Linked DNA regions of Homo sapiens. The protein of the gene in region 1 purifies or fractionates together with the protein of each later gene. This does not show direct contact. Each region holds a gene or a part of one and is shown in the gene's direction. Other genes may lie near its edges.

Region 1 (7,822 bases):
ACACTCACAGGGTGGAGGGTGAGAGACACAGCCAGGAGGCTCCGACCCACCCATCCCCTCACAGGCCCCAGCTGAATTAATGGGATTCCCTTGACCCCTCCTTGCAGCCTCGCTGAACAGAAAAGCAAAACCCAGCAACCACAAGATAGTTTTGAGTTGAAAATGGTTCTGAGAACTTCTGATGATTGCTTTTTAATTTTTAAATTTAGATCAGGGTAATGCTTTTCTGTTGGAATCCAGGGGCCTAGAGATGTTTCTTTATCAGTGGAGGAGGGGGGATGAAGTGAGTTTGAACCCCAGTGGGTCTGTGTGTATAAACTGAGTCTTACAGCCATGTGGAGGGAGCCTCAGAAAGCCCAGGCACTCCAGAAAAGGCATGCACAGGGGTGGGAGCTGAGCTAGGCACACACCAGGGAGTGTGTGTGTGTGTGTGTGTGTGTGTGTGTGTGTGTGTATGTGAGAGAGAGAGAGAGAGAGATCAGGGAGAGGGTTGCAATGAATCTCTGGATGGGGTAGGAATAAAGAAACACTTGCCCCTCTCTGGAGAATGCCATGGACAGGGGGCAAGGACGGAGTTGGAGCCACATTGACTTGGAGATTGCCAGGTGAGACCTTCAGGGCAAGCAGACTAGACTTCTGCAGGAAGAGCTCTCGTGACACACAAACCTCCACGGAAGTCCGCCTCCTCAGGAAGGCTGCACCCTGTCCCAGGCAGCCAGAAGCTCTTCTCCGTGGTTACTCAGCCCCACGTGTTCCAGCATGAGAACATACTCACTGTCATGGGGTTCATGCTCCAGGTACCAGCTAAGGTCTATCTTCATATTCCCAGGGCTTAGCAGACACAGGCACTCAAATATGGAATGACGAGTGAACAACTGAGTAACTGAATGGTCAGAATTTTCAAAATGCAGATTTGCTGTTAGGAGTCTTAGGTTTACTTCCATTATGCAAAGTTGGTCTCACCGGATTTCCCCTGATAGTGTTCCCCAGCCTCACATGACTGTACATTATCTAGGACGATATTAAGTACCAACTGAATGCGGGCACTGTTGGGGATATAACTCAGAAAGTTTTACCATGATTCTGCTCTTAAGCAGGTTAGCTGACTGACTTCCATATTCAATTCTGTTCAAGTCTTGAAGCAGAGCTCCAAGGGGAGCCAAATGGGTGGGTAGACAGAATTTCCAGTGGATAGTTTAGGAGCTCCCTTGTCTTGGTGTGAAGTGAGGATCCCTGAGCCACCTGGAGAGTGTTGGAACACAGTGTGGTCATCCAGGAATCAAAGGGAGCCCCATCCTGGTGCTCTGGCTACTGCAAATAATCCTTGTAAGCCGATCTGCTTAGCAGAGTACTAGAAAGGAAAATCCAAAGGGCAAGATAAAAATATATCTGTGGTATTTAACATGGTGGTGGTTGGAGATGTCAGCACGTACGCTGTTACACAGAGTCCGCATGTTACCGGGAAGCCCAACTTGGAGGTTTGTAAATCATATCAGAGTTCCAGCTCTCCTGTTTATTAAATGCATACTGTTGTGCAGGTCATAGATTTTTGAGCCTCAGTTTTCTTACCTCGAATGATTGTGAGGGTTAAATGAGAATCAGGTATGTGCAAACCCTTGCTGTATCATTGCAAGGTGTTCTTCAAAGTGGCAAGTGTTCTGCACCATAGACCAAGGGCATATTCTTTTGCTGTCTATACTCATTTCCAATTATAAGTACCCTCCCACATCCTCTCTCCCACTTGTTGATGGTACCTGTTCTTTGTTCCCCTGCTGCTCTCTGAGGACCAAGCAGGGGATAGTTGGAGACCTAGAATATCGGAACATAGATAGTCACCTTCATACCCCTCTGCCAAAGGCCAGAGATAGCACTCCAAGGGGCAGGGGGACCCAGAAAGATCAAGTGGTCTCAGCGGAGGCTCTCTTTTTTTTGTTGTTTTTTTTGTTTTTTTTTTTGAGACTGAATTTCACTCTTGTTGCCCAGGCTGGAGTGCAGTGGTGCAGTCTCGGCTCACTGCAACCTCCGCCTCCTGGGTTCAAGTGATTCTCCCGTTTCAGCCTCCCGAGTAGCTGGGATTACAGGTGCATGCCACTACACCCCGGTAATTTTTGTATTTTTAGTAGAGACGGGGTTTCATCATATTGGTTAGGCTGGTCTCAAACTCCTGACCTCAGGTGATCTGCCCACCTCAGCCTCCCAAAGTGCTGGGATTACAGGCGTGAGCCACCGCGCGTGGCCAAGGCCCTCTTAAGTACGCTCTGCCCTGGATGGCTGCAGTTGTTCTGGTCTGTATAAAACCTAAGTTCCAGGATTCCTTATACCCAGGGATACCAAGGCCTAGGGGACAAAACCCTGAATGAGGACCTGAGAAACCTGAATCTATACTTTGTTCTTTCACTCATTAGCTCTGCAACCATTAGTAAGTCTCTTGCCCTTTTGGGGGCATCCTCAGTTTCTTCTTTTGTAAACCGAGGAAAAATAGAAAAAGTTCTTGTGTGCCTAAAGCTAAATGTAAGTTATGAGTTACAACTTCTTCCTCTTTCAACAAAGGGCTAGATGGGATGTGGCTAATCACAGGTCCAGGAGAGGGCACAGAAGTCACCTGGCCATGGGGCTTAGTTTCAGCTTTAAGTTCTCATCCTGGAGACCAGAAGTGTGGTGGAACCCAGTGGACTTCTGTATGAGATTATCTTTGATGTTGTGTTCCTTTACCTGACTCCAAAAGAGGATTTTTCGTTTAGGACCTGCTTCTTCAGTGAAAAAGCTTTGCATTAATTTTGTTCTTTTTTTCTCAGTATCCAGCGAGCAGCATTGGTGGTCCTAGAAAATTACTACAAAGATTTCACCATCTATAACCCAAACCTCCTAACAGCCTCCAAATTCCGAGCAGCCAAGCATATGGCCGGGCTGAAAGTCTACAATGTAGATGGTATGTGCCTTGAAAGGGTGTCCGTGGTGCTCACAGGGGCACAGTTGGGTGACTATTTAAGATTCATGGTACGTTTGGTTCGACTTCTTCTCTGGGCCTACCTTTATGGTACATTCTTGTTTCAGAACAATTTCTCTTTTTTATGTAGGCAGACACATGTTTAGAGGAATGTTGATTTACCATCTACCTGTGTTGGAAGCCTGTTCATTTTGGGATTTTATGATTGAAAACAGCAGCGGTGTGTGTTTCCTGCCTTCTGCCAGGATCATCTTATATTGGAAGCTGTTAGGAAAGGGTTGCTTTTCAAAATTGGTGCACATTACCCACAAACTCAGAAAGCTACCTAAATCATTAAGACTAGAAATCTCAGTAGTCCAGGCATCTGGTGAGATACCTGCGGGCACTTCTTACTCGTGGCTAGGAGCCGGAGTTGAGTGGGTGGCAGGAGGCTGGAGGCCAGGCTGGGTAAGTCCAAGCTATGTTTCAGGGTATCACATGGTTAAGTGCAAGAAACAGGATGCGGTGTCATTTCTTCCTGGGTATGTTGGGTGAGGGCAAGAACTTTGCAAACCCTAGGAGAGGATTATATTTTCAACAAGTCAAGTGATTTATATACAGTGTCAGTTTTTGTTGGCAATATCCTTTCAGTTATTTGTTTGTTCATTTTTTTTTGGCTATATGAGGTGTGAGCTCCCTCACGAAGCCTGAAGGATTGATAAATTTCACCTGTGATCTAAAAACTTAGGAAAGATTCCCACTAGTGAAACCAAGTCACCAGCCAAGTAGATCATCCGTAAGAAAGCCTGAAATCTGCCTATGTTTCTGAAAAGTTAAGGTGGTCAGTGGTCAGGGGACAGGACAGGACTTCTGAGTCTGTATTCATTAACGGGTCACGTTGCACACCCTCAAGCATTGGTATTTCCTAGAAAAGTTGTGGCTGCCATGACATTCTAGCATAGCTTGCTTTCCATTGTAGACTCAGTGTCTCATGTCCTTTGACTTTCTTTTTTGTCTGTCTGTCTGTCTGTCCTTGGTCTCCCCATCCCTCTCATTCTGTCTCATTGTCTTGCTGAAATTTGATGTCCCAGCCGCCCTTATGGCCAAACTGAAACTTTATGTAACAGATGGTAACATCTTCAGCACACTCTATGTGTTGTTTTTGGCCAACATTTTAATTGCCACCGTTCTTCATGCCCTTCTGAGTTCTTTTTCCATTTCCACTGACCAGATTGGGGTTTAGGGAGATTCCTCTGCTCCCTTGCTTTGGACATAGTGAATGTGGAGCCGGGGCACAGTTCACCCTCCTGGGAAGTGACCTTTAGGATTTGTGTGTGTGTGTTCCATAGGGGGTGGGTAGACAACACTGACAGATTGGGTACTAGTTTTCTGCTCTGTTTCCCACCCTCGTGGTATTAACACTATTCTTTCACTGTCCTTTCCCCAAAGGCCCCAGTAACAATGCCACTGGCCAGTCCCGGGCCATGATTGCTGCAGCTGCTCGGCGCAGGGACTCAAGCCACAACGAGTTGTATTATGAAGAGGCCGAACATGAACGGCGAGTAAAGAAGCGGAAAGCAAGGTATACTGCCCTCCTGATGCCAGTACCCTCTTACAGACTTTTAAATTTTTATTTTATTTATTTATTTATTTATTTATTTAGAGACAGAATCTCACTCTGTTGCCCAGGCTGGAGTGCAGTGGCAAGATCTTGGCTCACTGTCACCTCTGCCTCCCAGGTTCCAGTGATTCTCATGCCTCAGCCTCCCAAATAGCTGCGATCACAGGCGCCCACCACCACGCCCGGCTAATATTTGGTATTTTTAGTAGAGATGGGGTTTCGCTATGTTGGCCAGACTGGTCTCAAACTCCTGACCTCGAGTGATGTGCCTGTCTCAGCCTCCCAAAGTACTGTGATTACAGGCATGAGCCACCATGCCCGGCCTCTTGTAGACTTTCAATCTTTCCTTTCTTACCACTAGAATGAGGTTTCTGTTTAAAAACATGACCTGCTGGGACACCTTTGGAGTGCACCTTGCTCCAGTGTTTCTCAAACTGAAGCCTGTATGAATATCACTGGGAGGGCTGTTCAAATACAGGCAGCAGGTTCTGGGCCCTGCTTGCAGAGACCCTACCCAATAGGTGTGGAGTTGGGCCCAAGAAATGGCATTTCTAACAGATTCCTGCGTGATGCTGATGCTCCTGGCCCCCAGCCCATACTTGAGTGGGTCTGTTCTGCACCCCTGGACCCTTGCTGGTGTTCACCGTCAGGTCATATTCACTGAAGGGGACAGAGGTGCATTCCATCATGTGTGCTGTGCCTCTTCCTGTTTCCCAGGGGCTGCTGGTGTGGGTGGCTGGACCAGGGAGCACGCAGCTCTGCTTCTTTGTAGGGCTGCTTCTGCACCACCAGCCACCTCTCTCTGTACAGAGCCTTTTATAGCCAGTCGGAGGGGCCTCAGAACTCTTTTCATCTAACCATTGCAGAGATGAAAAAAGGACTAGTGCATTTCCCAAGCTCATTGGTGGCAGAATTCAGAACAGAGTTCATCTCCCAGTCCTGGGGCTCCTTTCCCCCAACCCCTGGGGCCCCTGTTCCACATGTTATTTTTGCTGTTGCCTTTCTTTCTCCCTTCCTCCCTCTCCACTCTCTGAGGGACAGCTAAGGATGCAAGCAGCGTGATTGGGCCTTGGGTATGTTGGCAGGTTGGGCCGCAGCAGGGTAGACAAGCGTCATTCTGTTCTCACACCCTGTGGCAGGCACCATCCTGATTACTTAGTGTTGCATCACCTTCTAGGCTGGTGGTTGCAGTGGAAGAGGCCTTCATCCACATTCAGCGTCTCCAGGCTGAGGAGCAGCAGAAAGCCCCAGGGGAGGTGATGGACCCTAGGGAGGCCGCCCAGGCCATTTTCCCCTCCATGGCCAGGGCTCTCCAGAAGTACCTGCGCATCACCCGGCAGCAGAACTACCACAGCATGGAGAGCATCCTGCAGCACCTGGCCTTCTGCATCACCAACGGCATGACCCCCAAGGTGCGCTGCTCCGGGCGGGCTCTGCCACCGTCATCCTGGCTTGTCACTGAGCTTGGCCAGTTGAATTATAGCGTGTTACTAGAAGTGATAAAATCGAAAGGCATCTCTAAAACTCAAGTAATAAGAATTAGTGATTCTCACTTATTTTATGTTATGTTAGTACAATTGTTTTTTTAAATGTGCCTTTCGAAGGCCTCTGGATTCTAACAGAGGAGAGAATTTCGCTTGGAGGACAGTATGGAATAGTGATTGGAGACAGTATGGAATAGTGATTAGGGGTGCATTGTGGACTCTGGAGCTGAACTGATTCATTCTAACCTGGCTCCTCCACCAACTAGATGCATAACCTTGGGCAGATGGCAATAGCTCTGTGCCTCAGTTTCCTAACCTGTTAATTGGTTAGGATAATACTAATAACTATCTCATTTGTATGTTTTGGGAACTGAAAGAGCAGGATACACATATAGTGCAACATATAAACAGAGGTCCTTATAAAAAACAGCTACCAAATGTTACACGTGTACCACATGCCAAGCTCATCTACTCTCTACCATGCGATTTACATGCCTTGTTGCCATATTCAATGTAATTCTTACACAACAACCCTGTCAGAGAGATATTATTATTATCCTCATTGATACAACAGCAAACAAGTGTAGAGGAACTGAAACAGTTAATTCATGTGAAGTGCTTGAAACAGTACCTGTCATATGATGAGGATGGACTAAATAGCTCTATTTATTGGTAAAAAATAGAATGGCGTGAACCCAGGAGGCAGAGCTTGCAGTGAGCCAAGATCGCACCACTGCACTCCAGCCTGGGCGACAGAGCGAGACTCCGTCCAAAAAAAAAAAAAAAAAAAATGCCATCAGGCATTTTGGGTGTTACAGAATTAGTTTTACTGAGTGGTCTTTTAGATTATGATATTTAGGACACTTTAAGAAGTGTTACAAGAAACAGCCATGTATCTAATAGAGAGTTGTGGCCAAGGAGGCAAACTAGAGTAAAGATACAGCAAATGACTTCTCTACAGAGAAGTGGGTTCAAATCCTGGCTCCACCACTTAATTGTTTTGTGACTGTGCACAAATTACTCTACCCTCTATTAGATATATGGCTGTTTCTTGTAATATCCCTAAAAGTGTGCTAAATACTGTAATCTAAAAGACCGTTTGGTAAAACTGACTCTGTAACACCCAAAATGCCTGACAAAGCCATAGCATTATTTTTACCAATAATAATAATAGCAATTTAGTCTGGCCTCTTCATATGACAGGTACTGTTTTAAGCACATCACGTGAATTAACTCTTTCAGTTCCTCTACACTTGTTTACTGTTGTATCAATGAGGATAATAATAATATCTCTCTGACAGGGTTGTTGTGTAAGAATTACATTGAATATGGCAACAAGGCATGTAAATCGCATGGTAGAGAGTAGATGAGCTTGGCATGTGGTACATGTGTAACATTTGGTAGCTGTTTTTTTATAAGGACTTCTGTTTATATGTTGCACTATATGTGTATCCTGCTGGTTACATTGTCAACCAATAACTACCCTTAGGAAAGCAATGTAGAAATAGTAAGAAACCAAAAAGTTTTCTGTATTGATTCACTAATCTCTCTCCTAGGAAAACTATTTCCTACAATCATATATACACATGAATATACACAAAGGTGGTGTTTTGCAAAACAATCTGTAATCCTCCACAATGGAAATAATTTAAAACATAACAGTGGCTTATAAATTATGGTGTATCACCTGTTGAATCATGAAAGAATCTGTTAGAATAGTAAGTTACAAGAAATAGAATGCAGAAACATGTGAATACTGTGGTTGCAAATGAGGAAAATATGTCTGCAGGT
Region 2 (7,869 bases), about 110 Mb from region 1:
GCCAACATTCTTTTATGGGCCAAGATTCTTTTTTTTTTTTTTTTTTTGAGATGGAGTTTTGCTCTTGTTGCCCAGGCTGGAGTGCAATGGCGCCATCTCAGCTCACCACAACCTCCGCCTCCCGGGTTCAAGCGATTCTCCTGCCTCAGCCTCCCGAGTAGCTGGGATTATAGGCATGTGCCACCGCGCCTGGCTGATTTTGTATTTTTAGTAGAGACGGGGTTTCTCCATGTTGGTCAGGCTGGTCTCGAACTCCCGACCTCAGGTGACCTGCCCGCCTCTGCCTCCCAAAGTGCTGGGATTACAGGCGTGAGCCACCACACCGGGCCTTTTTTTTTTTTTTTTGTACAAGGGGAGGGAGGGTGGGGAGATATGGGCCAATATTTTATTCTAAGCTGTTTAACTTATATTAACTCATTTAATCTGGAGAACACTCTTAAAAAGTAGAAAATATTACCCCAGAAAGTGGTGGAGCTGGTATACAAAACCGCGTAGGTGCTTTGTTAAGGAATGATGCATTAGTTTCCCGGTAGGAGGTGAGTGCTTCATTCATCCATTCATTCATGTCTGCATCTGTTCAACTAGTATTTACAGAGCATCTACCATGGGCACATAGAAGGGAACACACCAGCCAAGGTTAGTCAAGTACACAGATTAACAAATAATGACAGGCTGCATTAACTGCTTGGAAGAAAATCATAAGGATGATAGGCCGGGTGCCGTGGCTCACACCTGTAATCTCAGCACTTTGGGAGGCTGAGGTGGGCGGATCACCTGAAGTCAGGAGTTCGAGACCAACCTGGCCAACATAGTGAAAACCCGTCTCTACTAAAAATACAAAAATTAGCTGGGCACGATGGATCATGCCTGTTATCCCAGCACTTTGGGAGGCCGAGGCGGGTGGATCACGAGGTCAGGAGTTCGAGACCAGCCTGGCCAGCATGGTGAAACCCTGTCTCTACTAAAAGTACAAAAAATTAGCCAGGCATGGTGGCACGCACCTGGAGTCCCAGCTACTTCGGAGGCTGAGGCAGGAAAATTGCTTGAACCTGGCAGGTGGAGGTTGCAGTGAGCCGAGATTGCGCCATTGCACTCCAGCCTGAGTGACAGAGTGAGACCTCTGTCTCAAAAAAAAAAAAAAAAAAAAAAAAAAAGGAAAAAAAGGAAAAATTAGCTGGGTGTAGTGGTGCATGCCTGTAATCCCAGCTACTCTTGCGAGGCTGAGGCAGGAGAATCGAGATGGCGCCACTGCACTCCGGCTTGGGTGACAGAGTGAGATTCCGCCTAAAAAATTAAATAAATAAATAAGGATGATGAGATGGAGGGCAGTTGGGAGGGGCTCGAGCTGAGGACCACACTAGGTAACCATGAGCAGAGAGGGGGAACTGAGCTTGAGACCCCCAGAGGATAAGAAATTAAGAAAAGCCAGGAAGGCTGGGCGCAGTGGCCCACACCCGTAATCCCAGCACTTTGGGAGGCCAGCGTGGGTGAATCTCTTGAGCCCAGGAGTTCAAGACCAGCTTGGGCAACATAGCAAGACTCCCCCCTCTATAAAAAATACTAAAACTTAGCTGGGCATGGTGGCTCGTGCTTGTAGTCCCAGCTACTTGAGAGGCTGAGGTGGAAGGATTGCTTGAGCCAGGAGGTTGAGGCTGCAGTGAGCTGTGACTGCACCTCTGCAGTCCCACCTGGGTGATAGAGTAAGACCCTGTCTCGAAAGAAAAACAAAAATAGAAAAGCTGGGAAAAGTTCCAAGCAGAGGCAAGAGCAAGTGCAAAGCCCCAGAAATGGGAAGACATTTAGAGACTAGCAGATCAATGTGGCTGGAGATGAAGGAGCTCAGGGTGGGGAGTAGGGCTGAACATGGCATGGGAGTGAGGATGGAGGATGGGGGTGAGGCTGGAGAGGTGGGGGCGGGGCAGGGGGTGTGGGGTGAGGGATGAGGGTTTGAGTGTGGGGAGGTGGGGGTGAGGGTGAAGAGGTGAGAATGGGCTCATGAGGGTCAGGGTGATCTACGGGACACTAGTCTAGAGATGCCAAGGATGCCACTGGCTGTACCTGTGGGGAGTCCAGGGAGGGGTAGAGGCTGCACACATTGGCCTGGGGAGTCATATTTAAAGGGAAGAGCATGTGGGTCTTGTCTAAAGATCAAGTGTAGATAAGGACGGGAGGAGGCTGGGTGTGATGGCTCCCGCCTGTAATCCTAGCACTTTGGGAGGCTGAGGCAGGAAGATTGCTTTAGCCCAGGAGTTCTAGATCAGCCTGGGCAACATAGCCATAGTGAGACACCAACTCTCTACAACAGCAAAACAAAACAAAACAAAAAAACATGCAGCTGGGCATGGTGGTGCACACCTGTGGTCCTAGCTACTCAGGAGGCTGAGGTGGGAGGATTGCTGGAGCCTAGGATGTCAAGGCTTCAGTGAGCCGTATTCGCACCACTGCACTCCAGCCTGGGCAACAGAGCGAGAGCCTGTCTCAGAAAAAAAAAAAAAAAAAAGAAAGAAAAAGGAAAGAACAATAAAAGTCAACTGCTGAGAGGGAGGTTTAGGAAGAAGGGGCTGGCATTATGACTGAGGTGTGAAATAGTCTTTTGGGCCAGGTGCAGTGCCTTATGCCTGTAATCCCAGCAATTTGGGAGGCCAAGGTGGGAGGATCACTTGAGCCCAGGAGTTTGAGGCTGCAGTAAGCTATGATCACACCACTGCACTCCAGCCTTGGTGACAGAGCAAGACCCTGTCTCTATTAAAAACAACAAGAAAGGGAAATAGTCCCTTGGGGGAGAGATTTAGGATTGTCAGTAGCCCTGAGGGCTCGCTTAGGGTCCGTTATCAGCCAGGGTCCAGTCAAAAGACAACACATTATAGTTTTTAACTGAGAGAATTTAATATAAAGGATTGTTAACTAGGTATAAAGATGTGTTTAGGTAACTGTCGGGGTATAATACTAACAGTAGCAACTGCAGGAAGTAGCTACCACTGGTAGGTGGTATTATTAAAATGTAGATGCTTGAGGAGGGGCACAGGGAGGTGAAACTCAGACATCTGAGGAGAGGGTGCTGCTCTGCTAGGGCTGGTGTCTCTGAGGAGAAAACGAGGCTGGTTCTGCAAATGTTGGAATAAGTGCAGACTGGATTCCACTGCTGCTTCCAGAATGTTCCAACTGCCACCTCCAGGATAAAGAAGCAAGAGTGGATGACACCAGACAGGACAGGAGCAAGCAGGAAGCAAAGCCCCCTATTGATAGAGCCAAACCGGGATCAGCTGGAAAGCAGAAGTGTTTGCAGAGGCCCAGCCTGATCATTATAGAGCCAAGAACAGCAGCTGGCTTTGGAGCTTGGTCAACCGGCTTGAGGCCTGAGTTGAAAGCTAGACCCATCAGCACAGTCTCTTCTGGTGATTGGACTTTTGCTAGGTGAGTACACTGAAGCCAGGTAAAGGGAGTGGAGAGTGTGTGTGCCACTGAGTGATTTACAATTCAGGATCCTGGAATATAATTCCGTGAGGACGCAGCGGGTGACTGGGTGCAAAGTAGCCCAGTTCAAGGGACCTGTGGGCCTGGGGATGAGGACCTTTGCTTCTCCACATGCGGTCCATGGACTCGCAGCATCAGCATCGTCTGAGAGCTTGTGAGAAATGCAGAATTTCAGGCCACTGAGACCGCTGGAATTGGAATCTGCATTTTCCAGATCTCCTGGTGGTCCTCAACTACTTACTGGTTTGGGATGGGAAACTAGAAGGCTTGGGCTGGGAAACTAGGGAGTGGTGATCAGCGAGGGGGCGGCCTGGCTACAGCAAAAAGGACAGGCACTGGGAGACAGCCCCTGGGCATGAGCTTCCAAGCTGGGGCTTTTTGAGGAAGCCATAGTGGTCTGGCATTGGGACCTCTGAACGAAATTTCCCGGTGGCTACAAGGAATTTTCCCACTTCCCCAAATTAGTAGATTCGATTTCCATCCCACTAGCTGGTAATTTACAGTATAGTGAATTTCCTTATTTCTTTTTTCTTCCCAAGACTTTCAAAAAGTAAAGCCAACCCCTTTATTTATCTTTGGGCTCGTCCAGTCTGGCTTCCCCCCTCCGATCGTTCGCAGTGGGACAGCCCGCCGGGCCTCCTTCCTTCCCCAGAAACCCTCCAGGCCTGGGAGAGGACGCGTTTTGCATTCAGGAAAAACCAATCGCTCCCCTATCGTACATAACCAAGAGAAAAGGTGGCGGACGAGGGGCGTGGCAAAGTGATTAGTGCGGCCTGGACCCTGCGTGCCTTGCGCGCTGCGGGCTCTTTGCGTCTGCGTAGTTCGCTCACCTCCCTTTCTAACTCCGCTGCCGCCATGGCTCCTGTGGTTAGTATGGCTCCGCGTGAGGCCTCGGCTCCAGGGGAGGCACGTGGGCCTCGCCGAGCCCGGCATCTACCCAGGCTCGCTGGGGACGGCGCCCTGCAGCGTCCTGCTGGGGTGGGCTGGCAGGTCGGCCGGAGCGGGCCAGAGCCCCTGCCGATCCCAGCACGTTGTAGGCGGAGGAGGCCGCGGCCCGAGGCTCGTGAGGGAGATCCGGGAGGTCTCGGAGGCCCGGGGCCCCAGCTAGGGGCTAGCGGGGAGCTGGAGCCTGGAGACTGCGGTCTGGGCCGGCCACTGGTCCTCGGACCCCGGCCGGGGGCCTGATTACCTGGGTGGAGGGCGGGGAAGAAGAACGGGACCTGCTACCCTGGGGAGCCGCGCATTCGGAAGTCCACGGCCAAGACTCGGGGACGAATCCGCGGAAGGGCGGCTTGGTCGGCGTGCTTTCGGAGAGGAGGCCTGGGTTTGAGGAGCTTTTTAGCGTCCCCAGAGGAAATTAGTTTATCAGGGCGCACTGTACAGACCCAAACGGGTGTTGCAGTGGTGTAGGGAGAAGGCTCTCATTGCATTCTCCTTTAGCTATGCTGGGACTGGGCTGTGCGGCGCCCTCCTCCTAGGTTATTTGAGAAAGTTGTTTTTCCGTGTTCTTCGTCCCAAGATCCTACTTTTCCTCTTTTGTTGGGACTCCCTGGTTAACATTTCCGGTTCTTCTGCTCTTTCTGTCTGGTTGGGCTTTTGAATGCCTTTTGGTTTAAAACCTTGATGGAGAAGTATCAAGCCCGTTGTGGGTAGGTCTCTTGATTGATTGTGTGTGTTCGGAATAGATCTTAAAGTACCCCTCTTAGATTATTACTGCGAAGAGACGTTGTAAAAAATAAATCAGTGATTTTTGTAGTGGCCAAATGTTTGAAAAGTTGATCCAGTTAACACAAGTTTTAGATGAAGTTCTTTTAAACATGAAGGGAGGTAAGATGTGTTTTTGGAAAAGTCTATTTAGTTCTGCAGAGCTTTTAAACGTGAAAGTACAGGTTGGTACGATGCACAAGTGCATTAATGGTGTCAAGTTTGTAGAGAGATAAGATTAACACAAGCTTCTTCGTAAGAGTGAAGAAACTGGAACCTTGTAGGATGTGCTTTGCCGGGTGGTTTGGAAGTACTAATGCATAGATGAAGCGAATCAAAATGTCAGAAGTTCTTGACGGTAGTGTTGTAATAAGATTCTAGGTTTTAGCCTTAACCTTGTCCAAGCTGGAGTGGACAGGCACCTAGAATACTTTGCAACTCCCTTCATGAGAAGGTGGATGAGACAGGATTAAGGGAGATGAGCTAAGACGGATCAGGACCCTACTCTGAACATGTAGGACAAGGATTGATTTCATATGAAAATTGTGGGTATGCAAGGCATTTTGTATGCCTGCACTCTAATTTTGGAAAAATAGTATTTTTTTGAAATTGGGAATGTTAGGGCAAACAAAAGGAAGTGTTCATTTTATTGTGGTTCATAAACTAAGAGACCTTCATGCCTGTAGAGATTGGGGAGACTGGAAAGTTTGAGTGAGTCAAGAGTGCTAGAATGATTTCCCCATCAAAAGGGCATGACCCCAGGCCCCAAGCTTGTACAGCAGCATCTGCCCCATTATACCTCTGGCACTCAGGCAGTGATGCCTCTTGGCCCTCTGGCAAAGGGAGCACACTTCCGTTAGTTTTGTATTTGTATGGACTTTTATACCTATGACGTTTCTGGTTCTGTTAATCTTGTTTTTCCGACTGACTGAAACTTCATCTCTGTTATCATTTGTGTATTTTCTTAGAAAAAGCTTGTGGTGAAGGGGGGCAAAAAAAAGAAGCAAGTTCTGAAGTTCACTCTTGATTGCACCCACCCTGTAGAAGATGGAATCATGGATGCTGCCAATTTTGTAAGTTACATCCTTATTGCCACTCGGGTGGTCACGAACATTTTGAGATACTGTTGAGAAAACCTACTGGGGTACATTTCTGTTTTCAGGCTTATAGGCAGCTTCACAGGTCTGGCTGTATCATCTCACCCTGGGAATGTGGGCAGATTACTTGTTTGTTTCCAAGTCTTGTTTCTTCTTGTGTGTGCAACAGTTGTGAGGAGTAAAAGGAGATGGGCTTAGAATAAGCAAGAAGGGCTCTAGCACAGAGGTGTTAGAGGACTATCTTGTTTTTCTCCTTTAGTTTCCACAAATGATTTTACTTAAAAGTTACCCAGAAACAAGCCAGGCACGGTGGCTCACGCCCGTAATCCCAACACTTTAGGAGGCTGAGGCGGGCAGATCATGAGGTCAGGAGTTCGAGACCAGTCTGGCCAACATAGTGAAACCCCGTCTCCACTAAAAATACAAAAAAATTAGCTGGGTGTGGTGGTGTGCACCTGTAATCCCAGCTACTCGGGAGGCTGCAGTAGAAGAATCGCGTGAACACGGGAGGCGGAGGTGGCAGTGAGCAGAGATCGCACCATTGCACTCCATCCTGGGAGATAGTGCGAGACTCCGTCTCAAAAACAAAACAAAAAAAGTTACTGAGAAACAGACAAATTTCACTGGGTCCATGGCATCCCCCTTGCTGTTTGGTGTGTTTAAGCATAAGTGAGGGACCCTGATCCTGACTATGGGCTGCCTCTGTCCTGGGTCTCACTGCTTTGATGTGGAGCTTTGGACAGGTGGCAGCAGTTCCCGAAGCTTTTCTATATTATGAAGCATCTGAGCTTCAGTGTTTAAAGTACCCTGCTTGCTGAATTGTAATTGGAGCTTTTTTTTTTTTCTTCAGATCTTGCTCTGTGCTGATTTTTTGCCCCTGTATTTGGCCCATTCCCCAATATTCCTCTATCCTATTGCAATCTAGAAATATTAAATAATCCTTCCGCCACATTTTGACTCAGCAGTTTGGTTTTGACATTTTATTCTTTTTCCTCTAATAGCCATGTTTGGGGGATTCAGACTTCGTATTTGTGTGTAGAAGTCTCCTAAATTTGCATTTGCTCTAAATTCTCCAGAAGGTTGAACTATTGCCAGGATCAGTATCATTACAACAAAAATAATTTTTAAACACAAAATAATTATGGTCACGAATTATCCAGAATGGAATTTAGGTAACCTCTTATAGTTTATTGCCTTTATGTAGATGCTGTTTGCATCTGTGTCCTTCAAGAAATCCCCTATTTCCTTAGTTCTTTCTCTATCCAGTGACTTCTGGCTTTTCTGTGGCCTCCTCTTTTTCAACTTTGGTGTCTTCCAGTTTGGTATTCACATGGTGGCCCTGTTCTGGCATTATTCCTGCCTCCCTCCCTCTGAGCCATTCCCTCAGCCCACTCATCTGTTTGTGTGATTGTCTTTCCTTCTGGAAGCCTCCTTAGGATAGAAAACTTAAGTCATTTATGAATCTTGAGATGCAGAATTCAAGATTTCTGACCTAATCACTCTGTGCCCCATCTATGGTTAATGTATACTTTTTGTTTATTTTATTTTATTTACTTTGTTTTTTGAGACCAAGTTTTGCTCTTGTTGCCCAGGC

Evidence for each region. The genes of interacting proteins can lie anywhere in the genome.
Region 2: the proteins of VANGL1 (region 1) and RPL22 purify together in Homo sapiens (affinity purification with mass spectrometry; 2 studies listed by BioGRID and IntAct, with this or other methods). This does not show direct contact.

Annotation. Positions count from the first base shown.
Region 1 is NC_000001.11:115,679,569-115,687,390, forward strand, and holds part of VANGL1 (vang-like protein 1), read left to right. Parts: intron 1-2,795; coding exon 2,796-2,929; intron 2,930-4,375; coding exon 4,376-4,508; intron 4,509-5,724; coding exon 5,725-5,959; intron 5,960-7,822.
Region 2 is NC_000001.11:6,196,034-6,203,902, reverse strand, and holds the start of RPL22 (large ribosomal subunit protein eL22), read left to right. Parts: upstream 1-4,307; 5' UTR 4,308-4,329; coding exon 4,330-4,341; intron 4,342-6,146; coding exon 6,147-6,251; intron 6,252-7,869.